Linked DNA regions of Homo sapiens. The protein of the gene in region 2 purifies or fractionates together with the protein of the main gene of each other region. This does not show direct contact. Each region holds a gene or a part of one and is shown on either strand. Other genes may lie near its edges.

Region 1 (3,985 bases), on a different chromosome or scaffold from region 2:
CACATATTGGAAAAAGATAATTAACAAAGGACTAGTATCCAGAATATATAAAGGATTGGTTAGAAAAAGCCAGACAACCCAACAGAGAAAAGAGGACAAAAGATAGAGACACACATTCATAATGGGAAACCATAATGGCCAATAAACATATGACAAGATGATCTGCCTCCCCAGTAATTAAGAAATGCAAATTAAAACAATATACCATTTTATATCCATTAGTTTGACAATGAGAAAAATCATACATAACAGTGAGGATGTGGGGAAATGGGACCTTTCACACACTGTCGATTGGAATGTAAACTGGTACAACTATTTTAAAGAGCAATTTAGAAATTTCTGGAAAAGCTGAATATGCACATACGCTAGGACTCAACAGTTCTGCTCCTTGGTGTATGTCCAGGTAAACTTTTTCTTGGGTGTAAAAATCTATGTGCCAGAGTTTTTTGCAAATTGGTTTGCAACATAAAAAAACTGGAGACAATACTATCACTCATCAATGGAGACATGAATGAACAAACTTGTTTATTCTTACAATGGAATAAAACTTAAAAGACCTGAATTCATGCCAAATTATGGCTAAATCGCCAAAACCTAATGTATGATGAAAAGTTGCAGAATACATGGAGCATAACGCCATTCATTTACATTTTAAAATCACAAAACAACTGTTTTTTGAATACATACACACTTGGTAAAAGTATAAACACAAGTAAGGGAATGATATCCACAAACTATAAAACAGTAATTATCCTGGAGAGAGAGGAGAAAGAGAAGGGTGGGGTTTAGCTTTATAAGATTTTATGACTTAGACCTTTAAACAAACATGGCAAAATGTAACAACTATCAAATGTGGGAATTAGGTTCATGAGTGTGCTATATTATTTGCTAATATTTAAAATATTTTATAGTTAATTTTATATTAAAAATCACTAGTAGCTTATTGTCTTTTAACACTTACATGTTGATATACTCACTGTAAACAATATTTAAACGTGCAGGAGTAAATAGAATAAAAGTTCTCACTTACTGCTTCCTTCCCTAAATCTCTTTTCCTTCCCGATTAAGATTAATCATGTATCGTTTCTACCCATTTGTACATATATATGCAAATATGTACACAAAAAGTTTTCTTGTATATAAGTGAATTTCTAGCAACACCTGCTTACACACACACACACACACAAATGAACATCCGTTTTCTGAAATGCTTGGGATCAGAAGTGTTTCAGATTTCTTTTTTTTTTTTTTTGTATTTTGGATTATTTGCATTATATACTTACTGGTTGAGCACTCCAAATCTGAAAATCTGAAATCTTCCAGTGGCCATTTCCTTTGAGCATCAGTCATGTTGGTGGGTCAGAAAGTTTTGGACTTTGGAGCATTTGAATTTCTGGATTAGGGATACCCAAACTGTGTGTGTGTGTGTGTGTGTGTGTGTGTGTGTGTGTGTGTGTGTGTATCCTCATCCTTTTCAACTCTTGGAAAATATTCCAGAGTATAAATAAGCCACCTTTTCTTTCATTGTACCCTAACTTTGGAAACTCAGTCTGTTTTAAATTGTTTAAAATTATAATGTTACAGCAATTTCTGTACATATACCTGAGTACACATTTATTAGTATTCTTTGAGTTTTTGAGAAATAGACTGAATATATTTAAAATTTTGATGATGTCAATTTTCCTTTCAAAAAGGCCCTATAGTCAGGTGTGGTGGCTCAAGTCTCTACTCTCAGCTATTAATGATGTTGCGAGGATTGCTTGAGTCCAGAAGTTTGAGTCCAGCCTAGACAACACGGAGAGATCTTGTCTCTAAAAAAAAAAAACCCAAAGAAACAAAAGGCCCTATAATTTATATTCCTTTAAAAATGATATGACAGTGGCTATTTCCTTATAGTCTTACAACCTTTAAAAATATTGGATATGATTGTCTAACTTGTGACAACTTGATGAACAAACATGTTTCATTTTAATTTACATTTCTCTCATCACTAGAGACTTAGTATTTCTTCTTTTGTGAATTTCTTATTTGTATCATTTGCCTATCTTTCCATTGAGTTATGTTTTGCTAACTGATTCACAGGATCAATTAACTATTTCAATCATGACATAGGTGGCAAATAACTTTCTCTAAACTTTATTTATAGTAGCTTTCACAGAATACAGAAGTTTTATATTTTTATGTGGATATATTTGTCAACTTGTTGGGATTTCGATAAATGTTTTTTCTATTTTTGAGATGGAGTTTCGCTCTTGTTGCCTAGGCTGGAGTGCAATGGTGCGATCTCGGCTCACTGCAACATCTGCCTACCGGGTTCAAGCGATTCTCACGCCTCAGCCTCCCGAGTAGCTGGGATTACAGGCATGCACCACCACGCCTGGCTAATTTTGTATTTTTAGTAGAGACGGGGTTTCTCCATGTTGGTCAGGCTGGTCTCAAACTCCCAACCTCAGGTGATCCACCCACCTAGGCCTCCCAAAGTACTGGAACTACAGGCATGGGCCACTGCACCTGGCCTCAATAGATTTTTGAAAAACTGTCATCTCCAGAATTTTCAATTGTCCTATCTAGGAACATAGTATATCTCTCCTTTTTAAGTGTTATAGCTTATTTTAGAAGTCTATTCCCAGACTTTAAAAAGTCTATTTTACAGTTTTGTTTGCAATTATAAATAGGATCTGTTTTCCATTTCTGATTGGTGACAACTGATATACAGTAAAACTATATTAATTTTGCATGTATCCACTTTGGCTTCAGAAAACTCACCTTCAGAACTGGAATCTTCATTTCTTTGTTGACCTATGGCTTTGTGTTTATGGTTAAATTATGTGCTTTGTCAATAGGTATAGAAATTCCACATATTCTTATTCTTGTGTGCTTTTTTGGTATTGTACTGATGCTGTGAGATGCATCTACAGGAAAATAAGAACTAACTTAAACACAGTTTGACTAAAATCTTAATTTTAATGTTCTGAATTAGATGTTGTACAAACTACCTGCCATATTCCCCCAGCTTCGAATCTACATATGCTTCTCAAATCTGACTCTCCTGCTATATACCATTTCTAACTTCCGCTAAAAGATTGTGTTAGAAAGTCCTGCTGGGCCTCTGAGCCTGGATATTTGCAATTAGAATTCATATACCCCACTTTCACTAGATCTCAATAGTCAAAGCAAAATTATATTTGGGCAACCCCTTGTGTGAATACAGAAAACTTAAAAAAAATAACCAAATAAAAAACATTTAATTAAAGCTGGTTATGGTGGTATGCACCTGTAGTCCTAGCTACTTAGGAGGCTGAGGCAGGATGATTGCTTGAGGTCAGAAATTCTAGGCTGCAGTGTGCTATGACTGTGCCTATGAATAGCTACTGCACTCCAGCCTGGGCAACATGGTGAGATACCCATGTGTAAAAAAGTTTTCTTTTTTTCTTTTTTTGAGACGGAGTCTTGTTCTCTCAGGCTGGAGTGCAGTGGCACAATCTTAGCTCACCACAACCTCTGCTTCCCTGGCTCAAGTAATTCTCCTGCCTCAGCCTCCTGACTAGCTGGGATTACAGGTGTGTATCACCATGTCCTGCTAATTTTGCATTTTTAATAGAGATGGGGTTTCTCCACGTTGGTTGGGCTGGTCTCGAACTTCCGACCTCAGGTAATCCACCTGCCTCAGCCTGCCAAAGTGCTGGGATTACAGGCGTGAGCCACCACACCCAGCCATGAATTACTTTATCTAATTAAACTATTAAATAACCAGTTAAAATCCATTTGAAATATAAATATATGATTATAAGAATAGGCAGGGTGCAGTGGCTTACACCTGTAATCCCAGCACTTTGGGAGGCTGAGGTGGGAGGATCAACTGAGCTCAGGAATTTGAGACCAGCCTGGCCAACATAATGAGACCTTGTCCTTACTAAAAATAAAAAAAATAGCTAGGTGTGGTGGCGCATACCTCTAGTCTCAGCTATTTGGGAGGCTTAGTTGG
Region 2 (3,500 bases):
TCCCCAGCGAGAATCTCCCTCAGCCTCATTCCTGCCCCTCATTTTCTCAGAGGTTAACATTTAACAAATTACACTCCCAACCTCTTTCCAGGCCCATCATCTTTTTAAGTTCAACAAGAGTGGAGCTTGCTGGCTAATTTTAAGTATCACATTTCTCCCTGAGCTCCTCTCAAACTGCTCTCTGGTTTCGGCTGCAGAATGTTAACAGGCCAGAAAACACAGGGGAGACAGAGCACTTTATCAGTTTCATACCTAAAATAATAAGCAAGTTTAAAATAAACAGTTGAGAGAGATTGAATGGCACGCTCTACTGTCAGCAAAGGCAGAAATGCCCCAGCCCAAAGGTTGACAAGTGACGGGAACAGTCTTCTAGTTTCACACTGGATCTCATCTCTGAACTCGGTAATGTTTCTGATAGTGTTTATAAGTGGAGCTGTATTTTTCACTTGGTTTTCTTAAGAGCGAAATATTTCTAGTTTTCTTATGAACTATCCTAATCAAGATGTGAGTAGAAGCAGCCCAAGCTCCCACAGGTACCTTAAGAGAGGGGTCCCAGGTTTGACTTTAGGATGATGACAATTTGCAAAAGCCTAATTTAACAGCAACTGGATTTTTCCTGCCTGCTTGCACCATCAGCTGACAACTCACTTCTCCATCACATCTGCAAACAGTTGGCCTAGACAGTTCTGACATTTCCCACTTAGAAAAGCCACTTTCAGGAAGTTATTAACCCAAACGGAATCTTCCTGGTCAAGCTCAGGGGTATAGAAATGCCTCACGTGGGCAGGTCTGTATTCATTTGGTTCCCAGTAAGGGATAAGAACTGCCAAACAGGACAAATTGGAAAAATCGGACCAAAGATGTCAGTTACTATGAGACTAAATACCTAGATGTGTTTATAGTACATTCATAATAAAAATCTCATTTTTCTGAGAGTCTAATTCCATGATAGCAAAGACAATACCTATTTTTGTTTACTACTATGCACTAGCACAATGCCTAGTTCCAAAGTAGACAAAAATTTGCAGCATGGATAAATAAATGTAGTGTTAACTATGCGCCAGGCACTATGCTAGAACCATAATACGTTACCTCATTTATTTTAACTACCACCCCAAAGCTGTAAGTTAAGAATCAAACAAGAAAACCGAGGACCAGAAAAGCAAAGTAACTGCCCATGGCCACCAGTTAGTAAATGGCAAAGCTGGGACTAAAACTCAACTCTGCCAAACCCATGCTCTTTCCATTACATCCCTCCCCAGAACATTGGTTCAGTCACTAACCTGGTGAGGTCCTTATATTGAGAGTCTTATTGAAATTATCCTTGAGAGCTTCTATCACAGACTTCATTTCTTCATTCACCTCTTCCAAGTTGATTATATCCTCAACCAAGGCAGCATTAATATTCACTCTGGTTTGGGACTGTCCTTTCCCTTTGGCTAAAAAGTGAACATTCAGTGAATAAAACAACAGCAGCATAAACAGAGCCAATAAGCAATTGGTGAAGAAGTACCTACTATGTACAGGGAAAAATGTCAAGTGTTAGAAAATTATAAAACATTATCGCTCCACTAAAAAAGAGCCTATATTAACTGAGTGTCAACTGTGCTAAACACCTTCTCAGATACTAGTGAGGGGGCACACTTTATAATCAGACACCCCAGGTTAGAAGTCTGGCTATAATGCATACTAGCTTTATGACCTTAGGCAAGTTATCTTTCTGAGTATCAAGTTCCCTACCTGTAAAAGAATAGTAACATCTATATTGCAAGGTTGCTACAAGGATACAAATTAAGTCATTCAAACACCTAAAAGAACACTATACACATGGCAGGGAATCCATAACTAAATTAATCCCTTACTTTTCAGAAAAGTAAACAGAAGATGAGAAAGGTAAAGCTATTTGCCTAATGTCACAGGTCAGGAAATGGAAAAGTCAAGATCTGGTTCCAGATCTGCCTAATTTTAAACCCATGAACTTTTCACTAGCCCATCTCCACAAAATCTAATTAGAGAGACAGGAAATACATTAATTCATTAAAAATGGACACTAAGACAAGGATATGCACACAATATCTGATGGCTGGTAGAGTACAGACAAAAGGAACAATAGTAGTTTACAGACATTAAACACTACCAATGGTAGAGACAATGGCTTATATTTTAGAAAATCAACAGCATTGGGAGCTGAATATAATTTCATTTTATGTCTAAATCATCGTAGTGATTTTTCATATACATTCTAGGTGTATACATAGATAATTTCTGTGAGTGATGCAAATATTCTTGCATTTCTTTTATAGGGAATGGGGAAGGAGAAAAACAATAAAATTTTAAACAATATTTACACTGTTTATTCATTAAACATTCAACAAATATTTATTGAGATTCATTAAATAAATTTTGTTGAACATCTACAGTGAACTCAATCCTGTACTATTTGGGTGGCATATTATAACTTGCAATGCAATTTCAAGTACATTCTCCTCCTTGCTATCCAAGATAGCTCTCTGAGGTAGGAAGAATAGTGATTAGTATTGTCCCCATGGTACAGATGAGAAATCTAAGGCACAAGCCATTTAAATGTTTCGTCCAAAGTAAACAACTGGTAAGCAACAGAGTGATTTTTAAAAACATTTATTTGCCCATGTTACCATTATGCTTTGAAACCAATGGCTTAGGTTTTTTTTCAGAACTGATAGAAGATGTGGGGCTGGGCGCAGTGGCTCATGCCTATAATCCCAGCACTTTGTGGGGCCGAGGCAGGCAGATCACGAGGTCAGGAGTTCAAGATCAGCCTGACCAAAATGGTGAAACTCCATCTCTACTAAAATTACAAAAATTAGCTGGGCGTGGTGGCGTGTGCCTGTAATCCCGGCTACTCGGGAGGCTGGGGCAGGAGAATCGCTTGAACCCGGGAGGTGGAGGTTGCAGTGAGCCGAGATCAGTGCCACTGCACTTCAGCCTGGGCGACAGATCAAAGAAAAAAAAAAAAGATGTGGATCTTCGGATTGAGAAACACAAGTTTCAAATAGGACAATAAAAGTAAATTCACACCTAGACATGTTGTGACTGCAGAAAACAAAGGACAAAGAGATCTTTATAAACGCCCAAGAGAAAAGACAAATTATCCATGAAGGATTAAAACTTAGAACACTTTCCAAGAGCAACAACAGAAGCCAGAAGCAACTGAAATAATATCTTCAACTTTGAACTTTTAAAACCAAATATGCACATTAATAATTTAAAGATATGCCTGTCAATATTGGAATGAATAGTAATATTTATGAATGAAATACTATGCAACCATGAGAAAGAATGAACACACACAAAAATTTAAATGAGTCTCACAAACATGATGTTGAACACAGAGGCCAGACACAAGAAAACAAAACTGTACAGTACAAAGGCCAGATATGAGAATATAAACTGAAAAGTAAAAAAAAAGAGAAAACGAATCCATGCTACTAGAAGTCAGAATAATAGTTATCTGCAAAGGG

The links.
Region 1: the proteins of MRRF (region 2) and LYRM7 purify together in Homo sapiens (affinity purification with mass spectrometry, with the first as the bait; one large-scale study listed by BioGRID). This does not show direct contact.

The regions. Positions count from the first base shown.
Region 1 is NC_000005.10:131,201,944-131,205,928, reverse strand, and holds the end of LYRM7 (complex III assembly factor LYRM7), read right to left. Parts: 3' UTR 501-3,985; downstream 1-500.
Region 2 is NC_000009.12:122,278,382-122,281,881, reverse strand, and holds part of MRRF (ribosome-recycling factor, mitochondrial isoform 1 precursor), read right to left. Parts: intron 1,440-3,500; coding exon 1,284-1,439; intron 1-1,283. UniProt on the Homo sapiens protein: Responsible for the disassembly of ribosomes from messenger RNA at the termination of mitochondrial protein biosynthesis. Acts in collaboration with GFM2. Promotes mitochondrial ribosome recycling by dissolution of intersubunit contacts.